Homo sapiens: one gene and its partners. The protein of the gene in region 4 interacts with the protein of the main gene of each other region in a pairwise test. Each region holds a gene or a part of one and is shown on either strand. Other genes may lie near its edges.

Region 1 (7,252 bases), on a different chromosome or scaffold from region 4:
CGCACCCTTTGGGGGAGCCGGGGGGTGGGGGAATGCTGCCACCCAGTTCAGATAGCCACCTGCTGAGAGGGCAGAAGCGTTCAAGAAGAAGATAGGTGGTTGGTTTGGAGGAGCAGATGAGTGCATCCAGAACCTTTCTCCCTCCCCCAATTGAAGATGCCATCTTCAAGGTTTCCTGGAACTATGGGAGGCCAGACTCCTCTTAATAGGGAGTGGAGTGCAGATGCATGAGCAGAAACGTCGCTTTTGAAAGACAGCTATGGGCTGGGTAGGACAAGAATAGGTGGCTGCTTAGGACACCAGTGGATGTGCTTGTGCTGTAATGGACCCCAGAGCCCAGCAGCTCCATGGTAGTGGGCACCATATTGTTTAGGCTGGACAGGCTGGGGATGGAGGGGCATCTGGAGCTCTCTTCCACAGATCTAGCAGAAACCAGAAGAAACATCTGCCCAGGGTGCTTGAGGTACACTGCAATTTGGAGGCAGGGAGCTGGCTAAAATGACCTCCAGAAATCCATTCTCACTCAAGGCTCATCTGAAACCCTTTGTATTATCTCAGAGCCAGAGGCATCATGTGGTGCCTGGGCAGAGCAAGATCCTGGGTGCAGGTAGGGGGTGTCATCTTGTTGGCATGAGACCAATCTCCCTGGCCTGAGGCCTCTCACGTACAGAGCCCGAGTCTTCTGGATTCCTGGCTTGGGCCTGGGGAGCCAAGTATGCCAAATAACCTCTGCTAAAGATGAACCTTGCATGCTCCCCATAGTGACAGTATCTCCAGGTACCAAGGAAGTACCCTCTCCCCTGGCTTCTCCAAGCCCTTCATTTTTACCAAGAGGGAAGGTGAACATGGGGAGTTCGTGATGAAAGGCACCAAATCAAGGTCTCTTCCCTCCCTGTCTGGCCCAACCCCAGACCCCTTCTTCTCCTTTTCATTCTATATGAAGTTCTCCGATGGCCTACATGGGGCTCCAGGGAAGGGGTCCGTGAATAGAGAAGACATATTGAAGATGATGTCCCACCCCAGCTAGCCCAGAAGCACTGAGGTTCCCCCCATCCTCTCTCTTCCTACACACATACTGAGAGCCACAGGTCCTCCTAGATGCCACCCCCAGGCCAGATACTTCAAATTCCCCCTCCCTGCTGGATGTCTCAGAAGGCGGTAGCAGCCTGGGGGCATCGGCACCTGGCAGCGGCAATGCGAACATCCTGTGTGACCCTGAGCAAGTCACTTAGCTTTGCATTTTCACCAACTGGCCACATCAATAACAACGCTGCCCCAGGGACAGAGGGCTCAGGCCCAGCAGAGACTCCTGAACGGAAGGGCAGAGGATGGCCACTACAGTCACTTTAAGAGGATTCCCGCTGACTCAAAGCAAACCTACCCTTTCGGTACCTCACCAATGGCAGAACGCCGGCGGCAGCGTGGGCACCAACAGTCACATACAAATGCCCCTGCAACACCAACACACAGGCCTCACCTACAGGGCAGGAGGTCCTGGGACAGCCAAGGTACTGCCTCTCTCCTTACCCTGGGGACTCATCTTAGGGCACCCACTTGGCTTTCCCCCCAAGGGGGCTGGGATCCCCAGCCTTCTAGGACACTTAACTGCAGGGCACTCCCTGCCAGTAAGGCTTTGGGGTCTATGGGACCACCTGCTAGTGGCTTCCAGCAGCCATGGGCTCCTCTGTTCCGACCTTTCCCGTGCCCTGCAGTTTTCTAGGGCGCACTGAGGCTCGACCACGGAAGGTCCGTGCCACTCTCGCAGGCCGCTCCCGCACAAGTGCTACCGGCCGGCGGCGGGACACTTTCTTCCTCTGGGCCAAACTCCCGCCTCCGCGCTCAGAGAGACAGGGAGCTAGCGGGCCGGCACAAGAGGCGGCTCTCTTTCTCACCGAGTCACGCTCATGCAGATGTCCCCCGGAGGGTCCAACCCGCCTTCCCCTCGCCTGCCGGGCACCCTGGCGCTCGCGCCGTCCTCCCGCGCTCCCGCTTGCCCCGAGCTCTGGAGCCCGATTCTCCCCGAAGCCGCTGATTTGCTCGGCGCTCAGCGCCTCTCGGGTTACGCGGCGGCTGGCGCGAGGGTGATGGCTGCGGTGAGAGCAGCAGCCTCAGACACGAAATGCTCAGAGCGAACCTCCGCGGCGCGGAGATCGCAAGGGAGCCCCAGCCTCCGCGCGGCCCCGCGGCGCAGCACACGGCCAGTGCACAGCTCCTCGGCTCGCGGCCGGGACCCGGGGGGCGTGCGGCCCCGGGCGCGTGCAGCCCGGGGCTCGACCTCCTCCCCCCGCAAGTTCCGCCCGGCTGTCCCCCGGTACTTCCCCCCGCCCCAGCCCCGGCCCCCAGCGCGCCGCCCGCCCCGCAATCCCCGCACAGCCCAGCAGGTGTGCGCCCGTGTCCCCGCGTGTGTGTGCCTGCGCGCCGCGGCAGGGGGCGAGGGGGTGAGGGGCGTCGAGACCCCGGCCCGCCACCTACCGTCCTCCTTGTCCAGCACCATCATCTCGGGCGCTCCGTGTCCAGCCGCAGCTAGGCTCGGCCGGGAGAAGGGCGCCGACTCGGGGCGCGCTTTGGAGGGGCGGCCGGTCTTCGGGCAGCTAGCGGGCTCTAATTACCCGCTTGTCCGGCTCTTAACCTAGATTGCACTCAGCTAGAATTACATTCAGGAGTGAAGCACTTCGCAGATACAAAAGCAGTCTCACCTACTTTTGTGCCTCAGAATTGGAAGGAACTACGAACTGCAATTTAGAGAGAGAGGGAGAGGGAGAGAGAAGGGGGAAAAGAGGATCAGAGCCGTTTCTTTGATTCTCACCTTCTAAATGGCTCAATTTGCCCAGTATAATCTGTCTTAATGTAATTGCATTTGATAGCTCATAACCCTGTCTCTGGCAACGACACAGCTTTCAGCCTCATAAAGTGTTTTCCCCTCGGATTTAATCTGAATCTCAATCTAAAATTATATTCAAAGAGATGGGGGAATCTCGTGGCCGTCTCCCGCTGCCTTTCTCCCTCAATGTATGAGGTTTGCACTCCTGCTACTGCATAAATGCACACATTTCCTGAGGCCTCCACCCTCCCGGGTTAATGGGGAGTGGAGACGCACGGCTGTCCGGCTCCGCAGCGCCACCTGGAGGCTTCTAGGTCCTAGCTCGGTGAGCGTCTTTGCTCCGATCCCAGGGTCGTGGTCTTCAATGATTGTCTGGAGGACGCATCCCATCTGTCACTCCCAGACCCTCAGCCTTGATTTTTGTCTCTTCTTCAGAGCAATATTTCTCTGATCACATCCTTTTCCTTCCTACCAGTTCTGCCCGGGGTTTCGTGTTGCTTCCCGGATTGTTTGGCAAAGTTAACCCTCTTCAGGGCACAAACGATCCTACCGAGTCTTACAGCACTACTCCTGACCCCAGCAGCACCCCCAAAAGCATCCTGACTCCATGGAGCGGGAGAGCTTATCTCAACTTCTCTCGAAGCAAGCACAGGCATGGCCTTGAAAGCTTTTCTCATTCTACAAATATTTACTGAGCATGTATTATGTGCCAAGCACAGTTCTAAGGCACTAGGGATACAGCACTGAACAAAACAAAGATTCCTGCTGCTATTATGGAGTTGACGATTCTTGCTCTGTAACTCATAAGGCAGGAAAAGAGACAGTGCCCATCTCTTCTCCTGGACCCTGCTTCTCCCCAGAATCCTGGGGCTGATGTTCTGGCTGCCTACCCTAGGAAGGCCACCTACCCACCTACTTTTTTTCTTTTCATTCCTTTTTCTTTCTTTCTGTTTTTTCTTTTTTAAGATGGAGTCTTGCTCTGTTGCCCAGGCTGGAGTGCAGTGGTGTGATCTCGGCTCACTGCAAGCTCCGGCTCCCAGGTTCCAGCGAATCTTCTGCCTCAGCCTTCCGAGTAGCTGGGATTACAGGCACACACCACCACGCCCAGCTAATTTTTGTATTTTTTAGTAGAGACGGGGTTTTACCATATTGGCCAGGCTGGTCTCGAACTCCTGACCTCGTGATCCACCCACCTCAGCCTCCCACAGTGATGGGATTACAGGCGTGAGCTGCTGCGCCTGGCCGGAAGGCCACCTACTTTTAAATCCCAAGTCTTTTTTCTTTGCCTAGACAGTACAGAGTTCCAAGGTGGGATAGAAATAATGATTTTTCTTCAGCCCAAGGAGGGCTCCAGACAGATGTGTTGGAGGCTTGGTCCTGGCAATCACTTCTGAGGACTAGACCCAGGGAAAGAGAAACGGGCTGAAGGGCCACCAGTTGGGATTCTATCTCATCTCTGCCAATTACCAACAGTGGACCTTAGCAAGTCTCTTTCTCTATCTGGGCCTCAGTTTCCTTGGCTGTGAGGTGGGAGACCTACTCTTCCTGTATCTATGGTTGCTGTGGGGGTCAGATGAGCTAATGCATGTTAATGTGCTTTGTAAACTGTGGCACTCCAGACAATGCAGGGGGATGGGGGGAGATTATCTGGTTTGAAGGAGACCTGGAGGCTAGGTCTTACCCTTTAAGCCCTGGGAGGCCCCAGTGCTTGACAGGGATGGGGAGCAGCGGGCTGCAGCCATATTCCTCTCTGCTAGGCAGGGAAGTCAGGCTTTGAGAAAACAGAAAAGCGCTGCTTCTAATGAGATGCCTCATCTGCAGCTCAGAGGGTTTCACTTTCCCCTTCATCTTGAATACTTAATCCTAATAGTCCTTGAGTATATTTGATGTTAAATATATCATTTTGCTCAGACTCACCAGCCTCAGGACTGCGAGCTTGATCTCTCCCCTGCCACTGCCGCCAGACCCATGCCCTCAGGGTCTGAGGGAGGCTTTGGCACCGCTGCCACCGGCATATTTGGTGCCAGCCCCTCACACCCACCAGAGCTGGGGGCTAGACAGTGTAGCAAGCACAGGGCCTGACAGGCTGGCAAGGGGCAACTTCTTGCCGTAGAAACCTCTGTGCTACTGGAGGCGTTCACTCCATCGGGGCTGCATGCAGCCTTACTACTGACCTCCAGGGGCAGATTCTCCTCACTTTCAGGGGCTGGCCCTGACCCACAAACCAGGACTGGGCTAGCTGTGGCCACTCTTCCACTCTCTTGTCCACGAGTTTGTCTGAATACCAGCTCACCTCAGCCTCCAAGGTACCTAATTGGCAGCCACATGACTGGCATCCCTTTGGGGAGTCAGGGCCCTGTGCCCCAAACCCAGGGACTGGAGCAGGCCTGGGGTGCTGAGCAATGGGCTGCAGAAGCAGGTAGGGCATGCCAGCAGGGGACTGGTGCTGTGTGTGCCCACAGGTGGCTCTTTCTGCACCCCCAGCTGTGAGCATGGTGCTCCCAAACTGATCTGGAGAGGAACCTTCACAGCAAGTCTTGGAGGGTTTGGGTGGCTTGAGCTTCCAGCCAGGAAGGGGCTTGCTGGGTTGACAGAGGCAGATAGAAACATCACTCACCCCATCTGATGGCCTCTCTCCACTCACTGGGCAAGCAAGTAACTCCCACCCCCATACTCGCCCCACCCCCATGCTCACCCCACCCAAGCTGCTTCTAGGTCCAGGGACACGCCCACAGCACCAGAGTGGAATCCTCAGATCCCCTGGGGCTGGGGGAGGTAGTTTTCCCCCAACACATTCCACAGGTGATGAGCATGTACTCTCACTTCGACAAGCCAAGAGTGCTCCAAAATGCCCTCGAAATGCCTCTGGGAATGGCAGGGAGAGGACAACTATCAATCCCCAAGGTTAGTTTAAGGAGAAAGTGGGTGCTACTGGCTGTCTTACAAATATCTGGGCAGGTCCCAGCAATTTGCCCCTCCACCTGGCAGGAAAGTCCCGAGGAAGAGTTCCTGCATTAGGAGTGGGGGTGGGAGATAGTGGGACCCAGGGCCTGAGGGCCCAGGCCGACTAGATATTACAGAAGTCTTTGGTGGAGACTGTCAGATGTGCCTCAGCCAGAGGGCCTGCTCCCAACACAATGCAGCTGCCTCCAAGACGGAGTTACAAGCTAGCCACACAGGTGATGCTCAGAGAGGTATTGGGGTGACGAGGACCCCTTCTCTGTGGCCACCACAGTTGACAGGACAGAGTAAACCTACAGACTTCGCAGTGCAATCAGGATGCCTGCTGGCCATGTTCAGATGCCCTTCCCTTCCCCCTGCTTACACAAAAGCAGCCAATGCACAGGAATTTGCAACCCGCTGGAGTGAAGAAGTGCACAGTCGGCAAACTTTTCCTCTTTTGGTTTCTGGAGAGCCTGGACAGGCCTTCTTGCAAGCAGCAGTTATAGATTGTTAGGCCTTGTGGAGGCCTAAGCCAAATCTGCACCATAGCAAAGAAATCTCCCCTACCCCTGCACCACAGCCCTGAGAAGGTTTTGGGTGTGCACTGACCAACTGTCCAAGTTTGCCTTGTGACTCAAGGGTTTCCTAGGATACAGGATGTTCAGTACTAAAATTGAGATCGTCCTGAGCAAACAAGGACAATTGATCACTATAGTGAGTGGTGGTAGGATGGGTCAAGGGACTAGCTGGGCCAGAGAGGAAGGCCAGGCAGCCAGACCCTTTCCCTGCAGCCCAGAAGTTGCCTCTCAACCCCAAACCTTCCAGCCTCCTGCCCCAGCACTTCGTCCTTCAGGCACTAAGGGATTGTCCCAGCCTCGGCGGATGGTCTCTGGGTCAGCCAGAGCTGTGAGTTCTTCCAAGAGACTGGCAGTGGAAAGGGTAGGAGTTGGACCCAGGGATGGATGGAAATTTTGTGAGGTCCAAAGCTTACTGTAGTTTGGGCGTGGGGCTCTTTAAGAAAAGGACTACAAGACTACTAATACCAAATTACCACCAAGGACCTGGCAGCTGAAGGAACCTGAAGGACCCTAAACTTCATTAGCTTCAAGGTAAAACCGCCTCTAGTTGAACCTGATATTTTGGACTAGATGGCCCACCCACCTACCCCAGCCAGCGTGGCACCTCCCAACATGCCAGGCTGGGTGAACTGATGGCAGTTCCCTCCCTAGCCCTGCCAGGGGCGGAGACAATTGTCAGCCATCCCGCAGCTACGGAGTGCCAGACCGCAGAGACAGTGCTGGTTTGACGGCACCCTCACCCCTGCACCTGCAGGATCTGTGGGCACCCCCACCACCCCGCTGGGATCCGTTCCGCAGTAGGGTGCGGAAGGGGAACGTGCAGACACCCAGAGAGGCTGGGAGACTGGCTGGCAGTGGGCACTGCCGGGAAGCCCGCGGTGCGGGTCGCAGAGGCGCTCCGGATGCCCGC
Region 2 (7,025 bases), on a different chromosome or scaffold from region 4:
AAACCTTCGTCTCCTATTTCAGAGCCCTGCCAGGTTGCTTTCTGCCAAAATATCACTGAACATTTCTGTCCATTACCAAACATTAACTGAGACTTTTACAGCCAATTTGATCATCACTTCAATGTTTCCTATTAGCTACAAAAGCTGGAAAGAGAGTTTGTGAAACAACTTGAGCCTCAATTCTGCAATGTAATCATCACCATCTAAAGGGGCCCATGAGAAGAGTAGGGGCCTCTGACTGAAGGTCACTTGATTGAGGCCAGGTGGTCACCATCTCTTACTCATAAGGACTGACCACATCTGGCCCGAGAGTCACATAGACAGGGTCCTGCCCGAGGCTGCAGGTAGCAGGTGGCATCACATGCTAGGTGAGGACCCTCCGGGTCTGGGCTCAAATTGTACCTCGGATACTTCCTAATCCCTTTAACCCTTGGCAAGATCCTCATCCTCTCTAGGCCTCAGCGGCTACTCCATAAAATGGAATGAAAAAAGTTCCTACCTATAGGGTGTTAGGAGAAATTTAGATCATGCAGTTTAGGCATTTACAAGTGCCTGGAACAAGTCATCAGGCAATACACAGTGGTTTCAAAGACTACCACTAGAAACTAAACCCTGAATGCTAGTTTCTGATCTGCAGATCTTTTGTTCTTGTTTATTATTTTTTTTTTCTCTTTGTAGCACCCTCCAAGCACATGGGTGGGTATGGTGGCCAGTCCAATTTCATGGCATTGCTTGCAGACCCATGGAACATTCAAAGTCTAGGTTACGTGTGTCGCCCAGGGCTTAAAATCACCAATTTGTTAAATGCACAGTATTAGCAGCTGTCTCTGGAGTTATTGGCCAGCCTATTTTTTATTTTTATTTTTTTAAGATGGAGTCTTGCTCTGTCACCCAGGCTGGAGTACAGTGGCGCAATCTTGGCTCACTGCAACCTCTACCTTCCAGGTTCAAATGATTCTCCTGCCTCAGCCTCCCAAGTAGCTGGGATTACAGGTGCACGCCACCACACCCAGCTTATTTTTGTATTTTTAGTAGAGACGGGGTTTCGCCATGTTGGCCAGGCTGGTCTCCAGCTCCTGGCCTCAAGTGTTCCACCTGCCTCGGCCTCCCAAAGTGCTGGAATTACAGGCGTGGGCCACTGTGCCCAGCCCTATTTTTTCTTTAGTTGGTTGAATTTTTGAAGCCCAGAACGTAGGCAGATCCCCCAAAAACTCTGTAATCAGTCTACGAAAATATTTTGTTAATGCTAACAGGTATCCAAGAAAAGGTTCAGGAAGCATGTAATGTCAGAGGATCATAAAATTGTATTAGCATTGTCTATTCTCCACTATTACACTGGCCATACAAATCAATAATCTTTACCCTTTGAGATCACAGCATTTTCCCAGAGTAACTTAATAGAAATAAAGATTACAATTCAGTGGCTACATAGAGAGGATGTTCAAACTATATAACAGGCTCTGAAGTCTTGCCTGTCTCATTTAAGTAGGTCAGGACTCTCAAAATTAGCCTAATTCCCATAGGCATGCCAACATTTAAAACTCACACACATGAACATGTCCTTTAGAGGGAAGTAGCTGAGGCCTGTGGTGGCTGTGCTATTTTAAGAGAAGAGATTGGCCACCAGACCTAAGAGCACAGTTCCTCTATCAGGTATCTCCCCGCCTGCCAGGATTGTGGGCTTTACTTCCAGAAAAAAACAGGAACATTTTTTTCTATCATTGCTTCCACTACAAACCCAACTACCCGATTATTTTTGAAAGTCAAGAAAAGCACGCCTAAAGCATCAAAAGCCCCAAATGCCAAGGTCTCGCTTCAACTCAATGTCTCTTTTTGTTCCAAAATGTACAAAATCATACAGTGTAACCCCACGTATCTCAAAACATTAATCCGGGTTGAAAAGTTCAGCACAATTCACTCCTGGCTTGACAGCAGCCTTGATGATTTTGGCTCCATTTGGGAGACTCTTGTTTATTTGCTCATAAAACATGCGTGGAAGGATGACGGCTTTTAAGGGTCTTTCCACTAAATCACTGGAGAAACAGCAAGTGATTTTTGTTTTGTTTTTATTTCAGCCACTGGTCAGGGATGATTAGCCCCAAATATCCAAAATCTGTCCTTGAAAGTGAGACTTACCTTTTGCCAGATGATATCTGAACCTCTCACCTACGTAAGTATTTCTTTTCCAGCTAAAGCTTTTATAATTATATTTTTCTCGGGCTATCTACTTCTTCCTCAAACTGGACATTTTTATTGATGTTTCCAAAATGAAAAGCGACAAAGAGAGAGGGTGAAGCTTCTGAAAGGTGTGTGGAAGGGACGTGTCACGAAAAGAATAAGGAAGTAGTCAGCAGAAAGGTGGCAGTCTGGAGCTTACCCTGTCAGCTGCTAGAAGAGTACGAGTGCGAGTGCAAGGGCTTGTATCTACATACTAGAAAGACCCTATGAAGCAGACCCCTGGTTCTCCCCAGTTTTTTTTGGGTCTTTTTTGAGACAGAGTCTTACTCTGTGTCCCAGGCTGGAGTGCAGTGGCATGATCTCGGCTCACTGTAACTTCTGCCTCCCAGGTTCAAGTGATTCTCGTGCCTCAGCCTCTCAAGTAGCTGGGATTACAGATATGCACCACCACGCCCAGCTAATTTTTGTATTTTCAGTAGACACAGGGTTTCGCCATGTTGGCCAGGCTGGTCTCGAACTCCCGGCCTCAATTGATTCACCCGCCTTGGCCTCCCAAAGTGCTGGGATTATAGGCTTTGAGCCTATGCCCCTGGCCTGGTTCTCCCCATTTTATAGATGTGGAGATGTGCACGGAAGGGTCAAGTAACTGACCCAAGGCCACACAGCAAGTGAGACACAGAGCCTGGGCTGGAACTGGGCAGTCTGGTGGCTGAGCTCTCATGCTTGTCCTGTTAAATACATGAAAAGGGACAGAGAAAAGTCGTCAGGTGCAGTGAGACACGCAGCAGGCAAGACAGGATACAGGAAGATACACAACTTTTAGAGTAGCCAGATCAGCTATTTTTGCTTATGGTATTTCAAAGGTTTGGCACAATACCACTGTTGAGTTTCGTTTCTTTTACATTCAGCACAGCATCTGCCCTGAAGCCAAAAGACACAGGGCTGCAGCATTGGTTTAGGGGGCTGGTGCTGTACCTCTTTCGTCTCTGCTCAAGGCAGAGGTCTCTTTCGCTACAAGATGGAAACCATCCCTCAACTGTCACTAAATCCCTGGGAACAGAAAGTGATGGTGCAGCCTTCTGATTCCTGTCTTTCCTAAGAATGATGTGATCAGAGAAGGAAATAGAAGGAACACATGTTGGATGTGCTAGAATGATCCAACTGCATGCATGGCCTAAGTCAATCAGTCAGCGGCAATGTGCTGATATTAACGACCAGGGAGGAGAGCAGCAAAAATCCCTACAGAGCACAAAGCAACGAGAGCAGAAAAGAGATAGTAAAATGCCATGAACTGACTTGGTGCCCATTCAGTTGGGAATTCCTTTAGAGATGCCAAAGGAATCCCATTTTGTAGCCAGTTTCACGGCACTCAGGATGACAGCCACATGAGGGGTTTCACTGGAGTGTTTTAGAAGCCGTTTGCGGGTGAAGGTATCAGAGAGTTCAGAGCTATGGATGGGTCCCCCAGGGTGTCCTTCAGCAATCCAGGTTGGAACAAGAGTCTGCTGAGAAGCGCAGGTCAGGGTTCACCACCCTCAACCACGGGGCAGTTGGTACAAGTGACCAGTGGTCTTTGCTGAACCACGCTGTGACATACCAGGAGAGCCATGAACACATTTCCCCATTGAAAGGAAACAATACAAATCCTGTCCTTCTCTCATTAAAGGAAAAGAGCTCACAATCTTCCAAGGACTTTGTGCTTTTATGTGCCCATTTATCCAGGAACCAACTCTGGTTCTCTCATGTACACATTCATTCATCAAATATTGACTGAGCACAGCACCTGCTCCACGTTACTCACCACGGGGCAAACAGACAAGAGGAAGAGAGCACCACCCTTAAGAAAGTTCCAGTATTGGTAGGCAGCTGGGTAGTTAGATAAGGGCACTAATTGCTAGAATACAGAAAATGTACTTAGAGATACTAAGCACAAAAGTCCTGGCAAGGCCCTCACCCAGTGCTTGTGGGCAGAGATCACATTCGCTAGAGGGAAGAAGCTTCCGAAAGGCTACACGCAGGGTCCACGCCCCTCAGAGGGGGCTCAAGAGACAGACTTCAGTGGTGGATCAGGGCTTCAGCACAAACCACAGAGAAACCCGTGTTTCCTAGGGGAGCGCCGGGGACCCGCAGAGGCCCGCAGCAGGTACCTTGCAGTCACAGCCGATGGGCTTCCCACACTCCTCGCAGGTGTTGGCGAACAGGGTCTCAAAGCACACCACGCAGTAGGGGCTCTCCTCCCGCAGGATGTACTTCTTGCCAAAGAGAGATTCGTTGCAATGGTGGCAGTCAAAGCGCTCAGTCATTTTGACTCCTGGCTTTTCAGCAACCTATCAAAAAGAAAAGAAAATCCAAGTCCCATTAAGCACTCTCTGAAAGGGGTGCACGCAAAGGCATTAACTGTCCCACTGTCTGTCATCTTTAGCCGAAAGGTGGCTAATTCCTCTGGATGAATAATTAAAACTCACCCTTTAATCGGTCATAATTTTTAATGATAACACCTTTTTTCATTAGCTAGGGCGGTTTTGTGTTTGAATGCATTCCACTTTTTTTTTTTTTTTTTTTTTTTTTGGAGACAGAGTCTTGTTCTTTTGCCCAGGCTGGAGTGCAGTGGTGCGATCTCGGCTCACTGCAACCTCCGCCTCCCAGGTTCAAGTGATTCTCCTGCCTCAGCCTCCCAAGTAGCTGAGATTACAGGCACCTGCCACCACACCCAGCTAACTTTTATATTTTTAGTAGAGACAGGGTTTTACCATGTTGGCTAGGCTGGTCTCAAACTCCTGACCTCGGGTGATCTGCCCACCTCAGCCTCCCAAACTGCTGAGATTACAGGCGTGAGCCATCACGCCTGGTCACATTCCACTTCTTGAAAAGCACAAATTATTTTTTACTGTGTCAGAAAAAGCTATCTCAGTTTTAAATGCAGGTAAGGGCTGACACCAGAGCCCCCATCCTGTCCGGCTGTGACCCGGCCTTGCATCTTCCCCTTCTCCCTGCCTCCAAAATAGAAAGGCAGGCATAGAAATAATACGTCCATTTCTATAAAAAGATTTTCCGTGAGCTCCTCTTTATGATTCATGATTTGAATAGGAAGAAATCACAGTGGCAAAAGGGAGGGAGATCTGACCTGGGAAACCTGAGATTAGATGCAATGAGGGCACTAATACCCTTGACCTGGGAGTGCAAGCTGCCCTTGCACAAGAAAAACTGCCAAAGTCCCTGAGGATGAATCATTGCTCCCTGCGGGTAAGATCATCCTGCAGCTGCCCAGGTACCCTGAGAGCAGGATAAATGGAAAGACTCACTTCCCAAAACAATGATATCAAATAGTCAGAAATGCAGTGGCTGCAGTCAGTGGCTCTCTGGGCAACACCTCAAGCCCTTCCAACAGGAACAGGACACTGGCGAGGTTGCAGAGAAAAGGGAACATTTATACACTGTGGGTGGGAGTGTAAATTAGTTCAACCCTTGTGGAAAGCAGTATGGTGATTCCTCCAAGAGCTAAAAACAGAACTACCATTTGACCCAGCAATCCCATTACTGGGAATACACCCAGAGGAATACAAATCATTCTACCATAAAGACACATGTACATGAATGTTCATTGCAGCACTCTTCACAATACCGACAACATGGAATCAACCTAAATGCCCAGCGATGACAGATTGGATAAAGAAAATGTGGTACATATACATCATGAAATACTATGCAGCCACAAAAAAGAATGAGATCATGTCTTTTGCAGGAACACGGATGGAGCTGGAGGCCATTATCCTTAGCAAACTAATGCAGGAACAGAAAGCCAAATACTGCATGTTCTCACTTGTAAGTGAGGGCTAAATGAGGGAACACATGAACACAAAGAGGTAAACAACAGACGCTGGGGTCTACTTGAGCGGGGAGGGAGGATGGCAGGAGAGAGAGGAGCAGAAAACATAACACTTGGGTACTAGGCTTAATACCTGGGTGATGAAATAATATGTACAACAAACCCCTGTGACAAGAGTTTACCTGTATAACAAACCTGCACATGTACCCCGAACCTAAAATAAAAGTTTAAAATAAGGGGTCTCCATGCCCGGCACACTGCATTTTTCTAGGATGAATACGCAGTGTGAATAAGCAGCAAGTGATGGGCCCTCCTCTTATGACCATTCCTATAAAATCATGTTAGAATGATCCTGGAGAGAAAAAGCCTACCACAGGAATAGCTGGTGTGGAGAAACGGCCATAGGGCATTAAAAACACAGACAATTTTCTTCAGGAATAAATGGCAATATTCCATTTGCTAAAAGTGGAAAGTTTTCTCTGTTCTTAAATAGGTACACTGGGCTGGGTGCAGTCACTCACGCCTGTAATCCCAGCACTTTGGGAGGCCGAGACAGGTGGATCACCTGAGGTTGGGAGCTTGAGACCAGTCTGGCCAACATGGTGAAACCCTGTCTCTACTAAAAATACAAAAAAAAAAAAAAAATTAGCCGGGCTTACTGGCACATGCCTGTAATCCCAGCTACTCAGGACGCTAAGGCAGGAGAATCATTTGAACCCAGGAAGTGGAGGTTGCAGTGAGCTGAGATGATACCACTGCACCCCAGCCTGGGCAACAGAGCGAGACTCCGTCTCAAAAAAAAAAAATAGGTACACTGGTTGGCTATGTAACTCTGAGCAAGAGTTCACAGGATCTAAGAAAACTTGGTTCAATTTGCAGTCTTCAAAAGATAGGCGAGTGAAATGCCAGAATCAGACCTTCTGATGCAAATAAAATATTGCCGCCTGGTTTGTGATTACAGTAATTTTGTACTATTGCGTATACACGATCCTGACAACTGTAAGCAAGGAAAAGATCATCT
Region 3 (6,697 bases), on a different chromosome or scaffold from region 4:
CGGGAAGCTGAGGCATGAGAATCACTTGAAGCTGGTAGGCAGAGTTTGCAGTGAGCCGAGATTGTGCCACTATACTCCAGCCTGGGTGACACCTTGTCTCAAAAAAAAGAAGAAGAAGAAGAAGAAAAAGGGTGACTTCAGCCCAGAAAAGCAATATTCGACCTTCAGGGTCATTCACCCTTGGCAGAATAGAGTCTGGGAATTTATCTGTACAGTTACTTTCCTAAGCAAATGAGCTGGGGGGTCTCTGAGGCAACTGACCTCCATCTGTTGTTTCTGTATATTTTAAAAGAGAAATCGATAATGGGTGGACCGAGCTCTCCCTTGTCCCCAGAGACATAGTTCAAGTATTCTTGTTCAAGCATTTTTTTGCTTTCAGGTTTTCTTGCCTACAGGATTCTAAGACCTTTTGGCTTTAGCTTGATTTTCTCAACTTATCTCTCAAAATTTTTCAGTAACAAAGCTCCTTCTTCAAGCAGTACTTTATAGAGACCACGATATAGGAAACAGAAAAACTCAGGATTTTATTAGCATATATTTATTTTATAACTTCACATTTATAACATTTTACTTTGTATACCGCCAATAAATGACAATGAAACTATTTTCATAAATACAAAAACACATGAAATTAGGGTGTCATGGTAACCACTGCATCACTTTGGTGGAACAGTATTAAAAATAGAATTTAGAAAGATAAATGATCACAAGTGATACCTTTTAAAAAATGCTTTTCTTACAATCTCAGGATATTCTTCAGTTAAACTGAACCACAATCAGAAAAAATAAGTAATTATTTAAAAGTCAAACCTCTAACAATTGTCAACAACTGCTGGAAGAGTCATCACAAATATAAAAAACAACAAGCACTCAAATTTACAATAAGAGATGAAACGGTTTCTAACACCAGGGTAGACTGGAAGTCAACTGGAAGCATATTAGCTTGTTACCACACAACTGTCAGAACAATAAAGAAAGCATGCATTGAGCAGACAGGAACATCGTGAAAATCCTAAGAGCTTCAATGTATTGAGGGCTTTCTGTGTTCCAGATGTCATGCAACGTGCTTAAAAAGCATTAAGTCATTTGTTCATAACAACCGTGTACTCTCATCTTCTTATTTTTCAGATGTGGAAACTGATGTCTAGAGAAGCTAAGCAATTTGCTTACAGTATGCACAAATCTACCACAAGACTACACATCAACTGTGTTGGAGATTTGCCTAGCACATATAACTAAATGGTGCTCATCTGCACTGCACTCACACACTTACGTGATACACAGGTCTGATCTAAATACACAGGTCTGATCTACACAACCATGTGGTGCTACCGCTTTTAAAATCTGTGAACAATTAAAAGAAGTTTGGATACGTACACAGATACCATAAAGGAAACTTTGCTCTAAGGTCTGCACAAAATGAGCCAATCTGAAAATAAAAGTAAACCTGGTGGTGAATGCTGATGTGTTAAAATTTGGTTATCAGCCCATTTGAATCTAGCTGCATTTACTAGAGACTTAAAGAGTTTAGCCCAGGCATGGTGGCTCACACCTGTAATCCCAGCACTTTGGGAGGCCGAGGTGAGTGGATCACTTGAGGTCAGGAGTTCGAGACCAGCCTGGCCAACATGGTGAAACCCCATTTCTACTAAAAATACAAAAATTAGCTGGGCGTGGTGGTGGGTGCCTGTAATCCCAGCTACTCGGGAGGCTGAGGCACGAAATCGCTTGAACCTGGGAGGCGGAGGTTGCAGTGAGCTGAGATTGCACCACTGCACTCCAGCCTGGGTGATAGAGCAAGACTCAGTCTCAAAATAATACTAATAATAATTAAAAAAATAAAGAGTTTAAAACACATTTTGGAGATGGCACTGCTAGAAAATCTGCAGAACTGCAGAGCACAATTTGAAAGTCATCGTGATGGTAGAGGATGGACTAGTGTGAGTCAGAAAGTTCTGGGCTTCTGTCTAGGCTCCATCACTTCTTGGCATTTTGGTGTTGAGGAGACCACTTAACTCATCTGAGCTTCGGTCTTTCTCTTTATAAAGAGCAAAATTATACCACAACAGGGTGGCTGTATACATTCAATGAGATATACATGAAACACTTTGCACACAGTAGGCCCTCAATAAATGTGAGTTCCTTTTCTCTCCTCTTCATCCTTTGTTGCCACTAAAAGCCTTCTCTAAGCAAACCAGCCTGCTCACTAAATCCAAACCTGCCCTAAACAACCCTGCTCTCAAGCATGCAGTCCCCTCATGTCCCCCTTTCTTTGGGGACACCTCTCAGGCTGTGGACCTCTGGAAAGTAAAGCTTAGGTTGAGTCATCTGTGTCTTCAGGGCCTGACACAGCACCTAGCTCTGGGACCATCTATCTGACACCTAGCAGAAAGGCAGGAAGAACACTTCCCAGGTTAAAACAACAACAACAATGACAACAACAACAACAAAAATCTGCAGGCAGAGGTGGTCCTATTCACTGGGTGATGACACTTTTACTGGGGTGATGAACTTATTTACACAAAGGGTTAGTTAGCCTTTTACCTGTCTAGATCAGCTCCTCATCTAGACTGGAACCTCTCTGAGGGCAGGGCCCATTTTGTAGGTTTATAACTGCTCAACTGCAGGTTATAGCTGTAGTCTTGTAACTCCTTGTACAGTGTCTCACAAAGCCAGGCACTCAGAGAGAATTTGCTGATTTGAGAAAGGAAAACACCTGACAAGTCAAACAGCTTTATTTTTCAAACATTACAAAAGGTATTTTTTTTTTTGACTGCCAATTCTTTCTTCTATGGTATGGGCCAATTCTGGTCTATTTGGGATTATTTAAAGAAAATTGGAAGTACAAGTGTTTCAGATTCCTTCAGGCTTACTATTTAATATTTGGAGTTTAATCTTTTGTTCATTAATAATCTACATAGGGTCTAAGAAACTCCTAGATATTTTTTTCTTAAAAAGAAAAATCAAGGGCCAGGCATGGCGGTTCATGCCTGTAATCCCAGCACTTTGGGAGGCCGAGTTGGGCACATCATTTGAGCCTAGGGGTTCCAGACCAGCCTGAGCAACACAGCAAAACCCTGTCTCTACCAAAAATACAAAAGAATAGCTAGGCATGGTGGTGCGTGCCTGTAGTCCCAGGTACTTGGGAGGCTAAGGTGTGAGGATCACCTGAGCCTGAGCCTGGGAAGTCAAGGCTGCAGTGAGCCGAGATTTTTGTGCCACTGCACTCTAGCCTGGGTGATGAGAGTGAGACCCAAGAAATAAAGAAGAAAGAGAAAAAGAAAAAAGGAAGGAAGGAAGGAAAGAGAGGAGAGGAGAGGAGAGAGGAGGAGAGAAGGAGAGAAGGAGGAAGGGAGGGAAGGAAGGAAGGAAGGAAGGTCAATAATTGGCTTTCATGGTTTGATTTCAGTCCCATACATTAAAGAAAAAAATTTTTTAAAGGTCTTAGCCCACTGGCTGTGGGTCCTGCCCCCAGGTGGTTTTCAGTCGTCTCCCTCATGATTCCAGCGGCCATAGCCATCTCGTTCCTCTGGCTCTTCGATACTCTCATTCTCAAAGGAGGCCTCTTCCTCCTCTTCTTCCCGTATTACCTTCATTAGCTCAAGGAAGCTGGGGGGCGGGCCCTGATCCTTCAGCTCCCTAAGCCGGCACCACAGCATCTGGTTAAGAGTGGCCCCAGCCATGACCTGCTCCAGGCGGACCTGGTCCGCAATACGCCGAGGGATGGCGCGTTTCTCCACCGCTCTCCGGAGCAGGGTTTCTAGCCGTAACACATAGGCTGAGACCTTCTCTCCTTCCTCCTGATAGGTCTTCAGATACCTCACCTGGGCTGTCCTGCGGCTCTCTAGGCTCCCAAACACTTGCTTAAAGGCCTCCAAACACTCTTCTACACTGATGGACGGGTTGTCTGCCTGCACTATGTGCATGAGGTCCAGGGCAGGGCCCCGCAGGCTTTCCGCCAGCCACCTTTTCTTTTCTGCCTCTGTTACTGGCCACTCTTTGACTATCTCCGTGGCCTGTTCCAACCAGACCTCAAAGGACTCTTCCTCTGGGGCTGGGACAGCACTCCCTGAGAATACTCGCAGTTTCCGGTATCTCATGGGTAGCAGGGGCTGAGGCGCATGTGCCATTGCCTGTCCCAACAAATGGGCCAGTAATTCTGGTGAGATGCAGGGCACTGTGGCTGGAGACACGCCCTCCTGCCCCAGGGCTCGAAACATACCCGAGACCGTCTGCCCCTCTTTTTCTAGAAACAGGTTCAATCTTTCAAGAAACTCAGTGTCCTGATTAGGGGTCTTAAAGATCACCTTCCAGACACCCCCCTTTCCCTGGACCTCACTGGGAATGGCCGAGACATCAGTATCTTCCAGAAGCTCTAGTAAGACAGCATTGGCATTCTCCTGCTTCCGGAATATCTTGCCAAGCAGTCTATACCTGCCCAGAGACTTTAAAGTCTCCTGAAGGACCTCCTGAATCTCAGCCTCCTCAAAGTCCGCCGGTATCCCCGTAACCATCAGTGACTTCTGCTCATCCACACTCATTATCCTGCACCAGTCCTCTAACAGTGCCAGCGCCATTGTCCTAAGAATTGACCCACTCTGACTCTACAGGCACCAATTTGTTAGTGGTGCAGCTATGCACTGACTTAATATTGAAAATATCCTGGATGAGCTTCTAACCTTAGAACCCACCAATGAATGGGTCCCAGACTAGGTCACTCAAAGACAGTCACAAAGTTTTCTGGACAAATGACCCTGGCCTACTCAGTGGCAAGAACTCAGGACTTCTTGTCTTTAGGCCTGACCCAGGTGGGCAGGTCGTATCTCAGTTCTAACCACACCTGTGCCCGCAGCTCTGAAGTCCGATTGCCAGTGATTTTCTCAAAGATGCTGGCAGCCACGTGACGCTGACCCTTCTCTGATAGTTGAGGCACCTGGGACAGCTGCTTTCTCCACAGCCTCCTGGTCTCTGATGTTTCGTCTCTCTCCAGTTGATGGGAAAATGCCTTCCACTCTGGGACCCAGAACTCTTGAAGAGAAGCCTCCCAGCAGGGCGGCTTGGACCCCTGGTGAAACAATGTTCAGTTTTACTACACAGCACTCTCTTTCCTTGGAAGCATCCATACTCTAATCTGGAATGGAACTGGGGGCAGATGGCGGTTCTGCTTTACACTGCGCTTGCATTTGTCCCACTCTGTCAGACCCCTTCTTTGCTCACTGTGACTTTTTTTTCTCTTGGGGACTCCAATGAAATCTGGTGTCCCCACCATATGCTCATCAGACCTGTTGATTAATGTCTGAGCCCCAGTTAAGGACAGGATTCAAGGTCTTTGCCATTGAAAGATGAAATCAGGAGATGTGGCTAAATACCTGTTGATGTGTTCCCGAGTGTTCCGCGAGAGGTGAGGAGCTTATTTATTCACCTTTTAGCACAGGAAGACATCACCCACCTCCACACAGTGGTGTGTCTGGCTCTTAGCTCCAGCCAAGCCAAGCTGCTCTGTTACACATAAACAATAAGAACAGGTATTTATGCTTCATTAATATTCAGTAGGAAGACCGTTAATGCACTTATTCAAAAATATGATAATCCTTCACAATACTACTCAATATTAAGTTGCTTTACCTCTTTGATTAACAAAACTAATGAGGAATCACTCAAACGTTTAAAAATAGTTTAATCTAGGTATAACAATTCAGGGAAAAAAATCTCAGGGCCGACTAAGTTAAATCGGGAATTATGAATTAATTCTCTTTTGTTGTGTCTGGAAGGCTTTGCAAACACACATTTGGGCTTTGCTTTTGCTATGAATGGTAAGTGAAATAGTTTGAAGGTTTGTCCCCTCCAAATCTCATGCTGAAATGTGATCCCCAGTGTTGGAGGTGGGGCCTGGTGGGATGTGTTTGGGTCATGAGAGTGGATCCCTTATGAATGGCTTGGTGCCATTCTTGGGGTAATGAGTGGGTTCTTGTTCTATTAGCTTCCTCGAGATCTGATTGTTAAAAACAGACTGCCACCTCCCTCCCCTCACTCTTGCTCCCTTTCTTGCCGCATCTGCTCCCTCTTTGCTTTCTGCTATGACTGGAAGCTTCCTGAGGGGTCACCAGATGCAGATGTCAGCACCATACTTCTTGTACAGCCTGCAGAACTGTGACCCAAATAAACCTCTTTTCTTTATAAATTATCCAGCCTCAGGTATTCCTTTATAGCAACACAAAATAGACTAAGACAATAAGTTACTAACACAACACTCTCCAAGCATTTGTTTCTGTTTCTGTTTTTTGAGACAGGGTCTCACTCTGTTGCCGAGGCTGGAATGCAGTGGTGTAAACACGGCTCACTGTAGTAGCCTTGATCTCTCCTGGGCTCAAGCAATCCTCCCACCTCGACCTCCTGAGTACCTGGGACCACAGGCACATGCCACCATGCCTGGCTAGTTTTTTAAATTTTGTGTAGAGACGCAGTCTCCTTACGTTGTTCAGCCTGGTCTCAAACTCCTGGGCTCAAGCAATCCTCCCGCCACAGCCTCTCACAGTGCTGAATTACACACTTGAATCACCACACCCAGCCTTTCCTAACATTTGAACTTTAACCCATCATTTGAGAAAAAAGAAAAAAGGAGGAAGCACACCTATCAAGGATTTTGTTCTGGAGAACCTGTGAGGATTAGAGAACGTAAAAAAGTTAGAGTTGGCCA
Region 4 (7,025 bases):
GCCTGGGTGACAGAGCGAGACTCCATCTCAAAAAAAAAAAAAAAAAAAAAAGGACATAATATTCCTCATGGCACTAAATATTCCTCGTGTCATTAAAAGTGACGTGAGGAATATTTCATACTGACAAAAGGAGCTCTCATCCAAGAGGATAAACATACATGAACAATTACATGTCTAACAACAAGGCATCAAAATTCATAAAGTAAAACCCCTAAGGCAAAGCTCTGTGGCCTGTAGGTCCTGGAGTCAAGCCTGGGTTCATGAGCTGCCTAACCCTGGGCATGTGAGACCACCAGGGTGCTAAAGGTGTGGTTCATTGGAAGCCCCGAGCCAGCGTGTGACAGACACATCCCTCCGTCTCTCCCTCTCCCTCCCTCCCTTCCTTCCTCGCTTTGTTCCTTCCTTCCCTCCATCCCTCCCTCCCTCCTGCCTTCTCTCTCTCTCTCTCTCTTTCTTAGAAGTAAATATCTGTGGCCAGGTGCAGTGGCTCATGCCTATAATCCCAGCACTTTGGGAGGCCCAAGTGGGCAGGTCACTTGAGATCGGTTTGAGACCAGCCTGGCTAACATGGTGAAACCACGTCTCTACTAAAAATACAAAAAAATTAGCCGGGCGTGGTGGTGCACGCCTGTAATCCCAGCTACTCAGGAGGCTGAGGCAGGAGAATCACTTCAACCCGGGAGGTGGAGGTTGCAGTGAGCCGAGATCGTGCTACTGCACTCCAGCCTGGGCGACAGAGTGAGACTCCGTCTCAAAAAAAAAAAAAAAAAAAGAAACTAATGCTGGTGACGATGACAAATTGCCAGTGTCCTCCTCCTCCAAGCAGAGTTGGTCCTTTGGTCTTTGATCCTGGAGATGACCTCCTGATGGGGACAAAGACCCCAGCTTATATGGCCTCTCCAAGCAGAAGCCCAGAGATACAAGGACACCAAGTTTATCATCTTCTACCTGACATCTGCAGGAGACTGAGGCACGGCCAGGGGTGGGGGTAGTGCTTGAACCCAGGTCAGGCTTGAGTCCTGCTTGAACTTCCTGTGGCCCTAATAGGGGCTGTCTGACCTCAGCCTGGCCTCTGCAGAGACGGGTTCCAGACTCACCCATTGCTCCTTCTTTCTCTGCCCGGGAGGAGCACTGTCCACTGGATCTTCCACTGTCCACGCCACGTTTGAGTGTAGGTGGATGGGGCTGAAGAAGGGAGACTCAGACACCGAGTAACTGCCCGTGATGCCTGTAGGGGAGCAGGGAGGGCAGAACATTAGAACATTTGTCAGACCTCTGCTCGGGAGACAGAGTCTCTAGCCAGCAGCTAAGGAGACAGATGTATGGACAGACAGAGCAGATGACTATCCGGGAAACTGACAGATTGACCAAAGTAGCCAGTCAGGAGAAACTGGATGCACAGATGGGCCGACATGCAAGGTGAAGAACATTAAAAGTGGCCGGGCGCGGTGGCTCACGCCTGTAATCCCAGCACTTTGGGAGGCCGAGGTGGGTGGATCACGAGGTCAGGAGATCGAGACCGTCCTGGCTAACACGGTGAAACCCCATCTCTACTAAAAATACAAAAAAATTAGCCAGGCGTGGAGGCAGGCGCCTGTAGTCCCAGCTACTCAGGAGGCTGAGGCGAGAGAATGGCGTGAACCCGGGAGGCGGAGCTTGCAGTGAGCCGAGATCGCGCCACTGCACTCCAGCCTGGGTGACAGAGCGAGACTCCATCTCAAAAAAAAAAAAAAAAAACATTAAAAGTGACACAAGGAATATTTCATATTGTCAAAAAGGTGCAACTGTCCAAGAGGATAAACATATATGAACAGGCCGGGAGCAGTGGCTCATGCTTGTAATCCCAGCACTTTGGGAGGCCAAGGCAGGGTGGATCGCCTGAGGTCAGGAGTTCAAGACCAGCCTGGCCAACATGATGAAACCTGTCTCTACTAAAAATACAAAAATTAGCCGGGAGTGGTGGTGGGCACCTGTAATCCCAGCTACTCAGGAGGCTGAGGCAGGAGAATCGCTTGAACCCAGGAGGTGGAGGTTACAGTGAGTTGAGATCCTGCCACTGCACTCCAGCCTGGGCGACAGAGCGAGACTCCGTCTCAAAAAAGAAAACCGAAAAACAAAAAACAAAAACAAAAACAAAACACACAAAACATATATGAACATTTATGCGCCTAACAACAAGGCATCCAAATCCATAAAGCAAAAGCCCTAAGGTAAAGTTGACATTTCTCTCCAAAATCTACATTTTTAATAGACAGGCAGACAAACCAGCGACTGAGGGGATGAACAGTCAGGAGGCAATGTCTCCCCAACCCCAGCCCTTTGACAGCCTCAAACTCCACCTCCCCACCCTCCCCTGCTCCAACCTCTGAGACCCTGAGCCAAGCAGCCACTCCCTGGAGCCCCTTCTCACCGGATGCCTGGGAGGAGCTCCTGGAGTTCTGGTCAGAGTTCTCATCTGGCGTTGGGGAGAAGACCTCTGGGAAGAGAGCATTTCTCCGCTCCTCTGCCACCTCTTGCTCCCGGCGCAGGACACTCTCCCTCTCCCTTTCCAGCAGATCAGATGACTGGGACTTCTGCAGCCTCAGTGCAGGGGCCCCAGCCACCTCCCAGCCCCAGACATGGGGGACTTGGGCCTGCTGGGGCTCGTCTGGGGCCCTGAACCGCAGAGGACGCAGGCGGAAGTACTCCCACCGCACGACACCCCTGTTGGCTTGCGGGCATCCCCGAGGGGGCTTCGATGCCTCTTGCTTTGTGCTCAGGGGTTTTCCAGAGGATTCTGAGAGATGCCTCGGGGACATCGTGGCCTTTGGTGAAGTCGCAGCCTTGGCCTCCGCTGTGGAGAGACTGCTGGGCTTGCCGAATGCTCCGAAGGCTGAGAATTCTAGCTGGGGGGTCCCGGGGCTCAGGTACGGCTGGTAGGCATCAGGTGGGATGCGGTTCACCTTCCTCACTTCTGGAGCTGGGTCGGCCGCACGGGCATCTGGGGCCGGGCTGAGGATGGAATCTGAGCTGAGGGCTCTCCGGAGTCCGGGCTGGGGACCCTCCGAGACCCAGTCGGGTGTGGACGCCCGGCCCACGTGCAGGCCCTCCCGCCGGTGGTCTTCCTCACGCTGTGTCTCCTGTACTATGTCCCGCTGCACGTAGAGGGACGGGCGCCCTCTCTCCCGCCGTGGGGCTGTGATCAGGCTCAGCTTGGTCAGCAGCGGCCTGGTGGGGATTTCCACCAGCTCCTGGTGGTCGGTTGCCTGCCGAAGCCCCCTCTGCTCTCGCAGGTCTGCCTCACGCTCCTGAGCCAGACGGATCTCCCGCTCGATGGGCGTCTCCTTGGGGGTCCCCGGGGACTCCACTGAGGCCAAGGAGCCAGGGTCATCCACAACTTGGACACTGGCCCAGGTGGGCACAGCACGCACCTTGTTCTCTTCCCTGACCACCCCCTTCACCTGGGGCTTGATGGGAACCACGTGCCCGTTGGCCAGGTGGGGCTTGTTGAAGGCCTTGGGGGCCTGGCTGGCCCCTGGGGTTGTGCCTGCAGGGGTCCCCCTGGCCGGGGAGCTATGAGGGGCCCCCTTGTTCGCCTGCTCCAGACTCAGGAACTGCTGTCTCGCTGCCAGGAAGTCAATCTGCTCCCTGTCAACCACGTTCTCCTCCAGGGGCGTGGACCGAGGTGGGCCGGGGGTCCTGGGGTCTCCGTGGTCAGGAGTGCCCTGGAGCGTGGCCACGGTGCTGCTCTTCCTGACTGCCTGGCCCTGGATGACGGCCCAGCGCTCCCGCTCCAGGTCACACAGCCTCCTGGGGTCAGCGTCCCCAGCATCCAGGCGGTAGGTCTTCATCTCCTTGTCCTCCCCGTCCTCTGGGCGGAGTGCCCATGTTGGACGTCCCTGGTGGGCATCCCTGGCGCCCAGGCGGTAAACCTGCCAACCCTCATCCTCCCTGTTCTCCGAGTGGAGCCCCCGTGGGGACGGCTGGCCAGTGTAGGCATGCACGCTGTAGGACACCCCCTGCCTCTGCACGCCCTGCTGGGCCCTGTGGTCAGTGGGCCATGTCTGCGGCTCATCCTGGCCCCAGCCGCTGGCCTCGGGGCCCATGCACACCAGATGGTATGTGTAGCTGGTGTCTCCATCCAGCACCAGGCCGGTGCCACGGTGTGCCTGAGGGATGCCCAGGATGGGGTATCTGGTCACGCGGTCCATCTCTTCCGGGGTCTTGGCCTCAGCCTTCCTCCCGTGGGGTGGAGACCTCTGGGCTTACTGAGGGAGGAGAAGGAAATGAGGGCCATCAAGTCAGAGCACCTAGGGAGAGGAACAGCCTCCAGTCCCCCAAAGGGCAAAGGGTCCATCAAATGGCCTTTGTGATTGGTTTAGGGATGGGTAAGTGACACAGTCCAGCCACTCAGAGCAGCCCATTCTCTAACCTCTGTGATTGGTTTAGGGGTGCGTAAGTGACAGTCCAGCCAATCAGTGCATCCCATTCTCTAACCTCTGTGATTGGTTTAGGGGTGCGTGACACAGTACAGCCACTCAGAGCAGCCCATTGTCTAATCTCTGTGATTGGCTAAGGGATAGGTAAGTAACTCAGCCTGGCCAATCAGAGCATCCCACCTTCTGGCCTCTGTGATTGGTTCAAGGATGAGTAAATGGCCCAGCCTGGCCAGTCAGAGTAGCCCATTCTCTGGCCTCTGTGATTGGTTCAGGGATGGGTAAGTGACTCATCCTGATCAATCAGAGCATCCCACCCACTGGCCTCTGTGATTGGTTCAAAGATGGGTAAGTGACCTAGTCCAGCCAGTGAGAGCATTTCACCCTCTGGCCTCTGTAATTGGTTCAGAGATGAGCATGTGACCCAGTCTAGCCAATGACATGAGACCCTGGGACTTTACAATTAATGCAGAAGATGGGACCCTCTTCCCGCTGGTCTTGTTAGGCTGATGGAATGAGATAGTGAATTGCTGGGGACGTAAATGCCCCCAGTGGGTACAGCTTGCTTGACAGCAACCCCAACACCAGCAAAGCATCCTGAAAACTTTTAAGCTCCCTGATTCCAACCATACCTGAATCTCTGAATGTCCCGGTTACTACCCCAACAACTCGCATTATATGTTTCTAACATTTGCAGCCCAATAAAATCAGGGTGCCCTGCCCACCTTATCTCCCAGACACACACACCTGCCCTGTGGAGTCCAGCTCAGCCTTGATTTTTTTTTTTTTGAGATGGAGTCTCGCTCTGTTGCCCAGCCTGGAGTGCAGTGGCACAATGTCAGCTCACTGCAACCTCTGCTTCCAGGTTCAAGCAATTCTCGTGCCTCAGCCTCCTGAGTAGCTGGGATTACAGGCGCTAACCTCCCAAGTCCGGCTAATTTTTTGTATTTTTAGTAGAGACGAGGTCTCACCATGTTGGCCAGGTTGGTCTCGAACTCCTGAGCTCAGGTGATCTGCCCGCCTCGGCCTCCCAAAGTGCTGGAATTACAGGCGTGAGCCACCGCGCCTGGCCTCAGCCTTGATCTCTGAAGCCTTCCTTGGCCGCACCATATTTATCTGTGTCTCCTGTGCACTGAGCCTTTCCACCCTGAGCTCACTCTGAGACTCCTGGTGTGGGATTTTTCCATCTGACAATTACAGATGGCCCCTTGCTAAGGGATGTCAAATGGAGAAACTGAGGCCCAGAGAGAAGGACTGACAGCAACTCCAGTTTCCCGGCTCCCACATCCTGGTTCTCCACCCTGCCCTGCCCAGCTGGACACCTCGTCCCATCTGAGACAACATCCCCGCCTGGGCCTTGTCGCCATAAAGCCAGGATGGGCAAAGGAACACCGTGGACCTTGTCCCGCTGGGCCCAGGTGGGGCCGTGGAGCGAGCGGGTGACACCCTGACCCAGTGCCTTCCGGCTCTCGCCCTCTCCCAAGGGTCCAGGTTGCTGCTGGGCTCAGTTCCAGGAGCCTTCCCGGAGGTCACACACCTGCTCGCATCGCTTCTGTGGCTCCTGGCATCTGCAGGGCACAGTTCTCACACCCTGCTCCTGGCCTTAGCACGAAACCCCAATTTCTGTGGGCACCTCCACCCCAAGCCAGGCCCTCCTCTTCTACCCCAAACCAGACCCTCCTCTTCCACCCCAAACCAGGCCCTCCTCTTCCACCCCAAACCAGGCCCTCTTCCTCCACCCCAAGCCAGGCCCTCCTCTTCCACCCCAAACCAGACCCTCCTCTTCCACCCAAACCAGACCCTCCTCTTCCACCCAAACCAGGCCCTCTTCCTCCAACCCAAACCAGACCCTCCTCTTCCACCCCAAACCAGGCCCTCTTCCTCCACCCCAAACCTCGCCCTCCTCCTCTACCTGCAGCTCTCTCTGTCTCGAGGCTGCCTGTTTCTGCTTCTCCACGGCTTCCTCTGCTGAAGCCCATGGACACCTCCTCCAGGAAGTAACCCAGATTGCCCCTCCCCCAGAGCCATCATCTGAACACCTCCTTCATGTCAGGCCTTGTACCCAGCACCCGTCTTAGGTATTGTCTTTTGTTTTGAGACAGAGTCTCGCTGCGATGCACAGGCTGGACTGCGGTAGCGTGATCTCAGCTCACTGCAATCTCCACCTCCCGGGTTCAAGCAATTCTCCTGCCTCAGCCTCCTGAGTAGCTGGGACTACGGGCACCCGCCCCCACACCCGGCTAATTTTTTCTTTTTTTTGAGGCGGAGTCTCACTCTGTCGCCCAGGCTGGAGTGCAGTGGCGCGATCTCGGCTCCCTGCAAGCTCTGCCTCCCAGGTTCACGCCATTCTCCTGCCTCAGCCTCCCTAGAGCTGGGACTACGGGCGCCCGCCACCACGCCTGGCTAATTTTTTGTATTTTTAGTAGAGACGGGGTTTCACCATATTAGCCAGGATGGTCTTGATCTCCTGACCTCGTGATCCTCCCGCCTCGGCCTCCCAAAGTGTTGGGATTACAGGCGTGAGCCACCGCGCCCAGCCAGGACACCCGGCTAATTTTTGTATTGTTAGTAGAGACGGGTTTCACCATGTTGGCCAGGCTGGTCTTGAAC

The links.
Region 1: the proteins of MISP (region 4) and LMO1 interact in binary tests that used the Homo sapiens proteins (3 or more experiments, as listed by UniProt).
Region 2: the proteins of MISP (region 4) and FHL2 interact in binary tests that used the Homo sapiens proteins (3 or more experiments, as listed by UniProt).
Region 3: the proteins of MISP (region 4) and PNMA2 interact in binary tests that used the Homo sapiens proteins (3 or more experiments, as listed by UniProt).

Annotation. Positions count from the first base shown.
Region 1 is NC_000011.10:8,260,866-8,268,117, forward strand, and holds the start of LMO1 (rhombotin-1), read right to left. Parts: upstream 3,014-7,252; 5' UTR 2,498-3,013; coding exon 2,473-2,497; intron 1,986-2,472; exon of another isoform or gene 1,893-1,985; intron 1-1,892. UniProt on the Homo sapiens protein: May be involved in gene regulation within neural lineage cells potentially by direct DNA binding or by binding to other transcription factors.
Region 2 is NC_000002.12:105,382,036-105,389,060, forward strand, and holds part of FHL2 (four and a half LIM domains protein 2), read right to left. Parts: intron 4,506-7,025; 5' UTR 4,482-4,505; coding exon 4,326-4,481; intron 3,865-4,325; exon of another isoform or gene 2,076-3,864; intron 1-2,075. UniProt on the Homo sapiens protein: May function as a molecular transmitter linking various signaling pathways to transcriptional regulation. Negatively regulates the transcriptional repressor E4F1 and may function in cell growth.
Region 3 is NC_000008.11:26,504,179-26,510,875, forward strand, and holds the end of PNMA2 (paraneoplastic antigen Ma2), read right to left. Parts: intron 5,500-6,697; 5' UTR 5,370-5,499; intron 5,066-5,369; 5' UTR 4,578-5,065; coding exon 3,483-4,577; 3' UTR 523-3,482; downstream 1-522.
Region 4 is NC_000019.10:754,112-761,136, reverse strand, and holds part of MISP (mitotic interactor and substrate of PLK1), read right to left. Parts: intron 6,691-7,025; exon of another isoform or gene 6,328-6,690; intron 4,248-6,327; 5' UTR 4,191-4,247; coding exon 2,411-4,190; intron 1,229-2,410; coding exon 1,098-1,228; intron 1-1,097. UniProt on the Homo sapiens protein: Plays a role in mitotic spindle orientation and mitotic progression.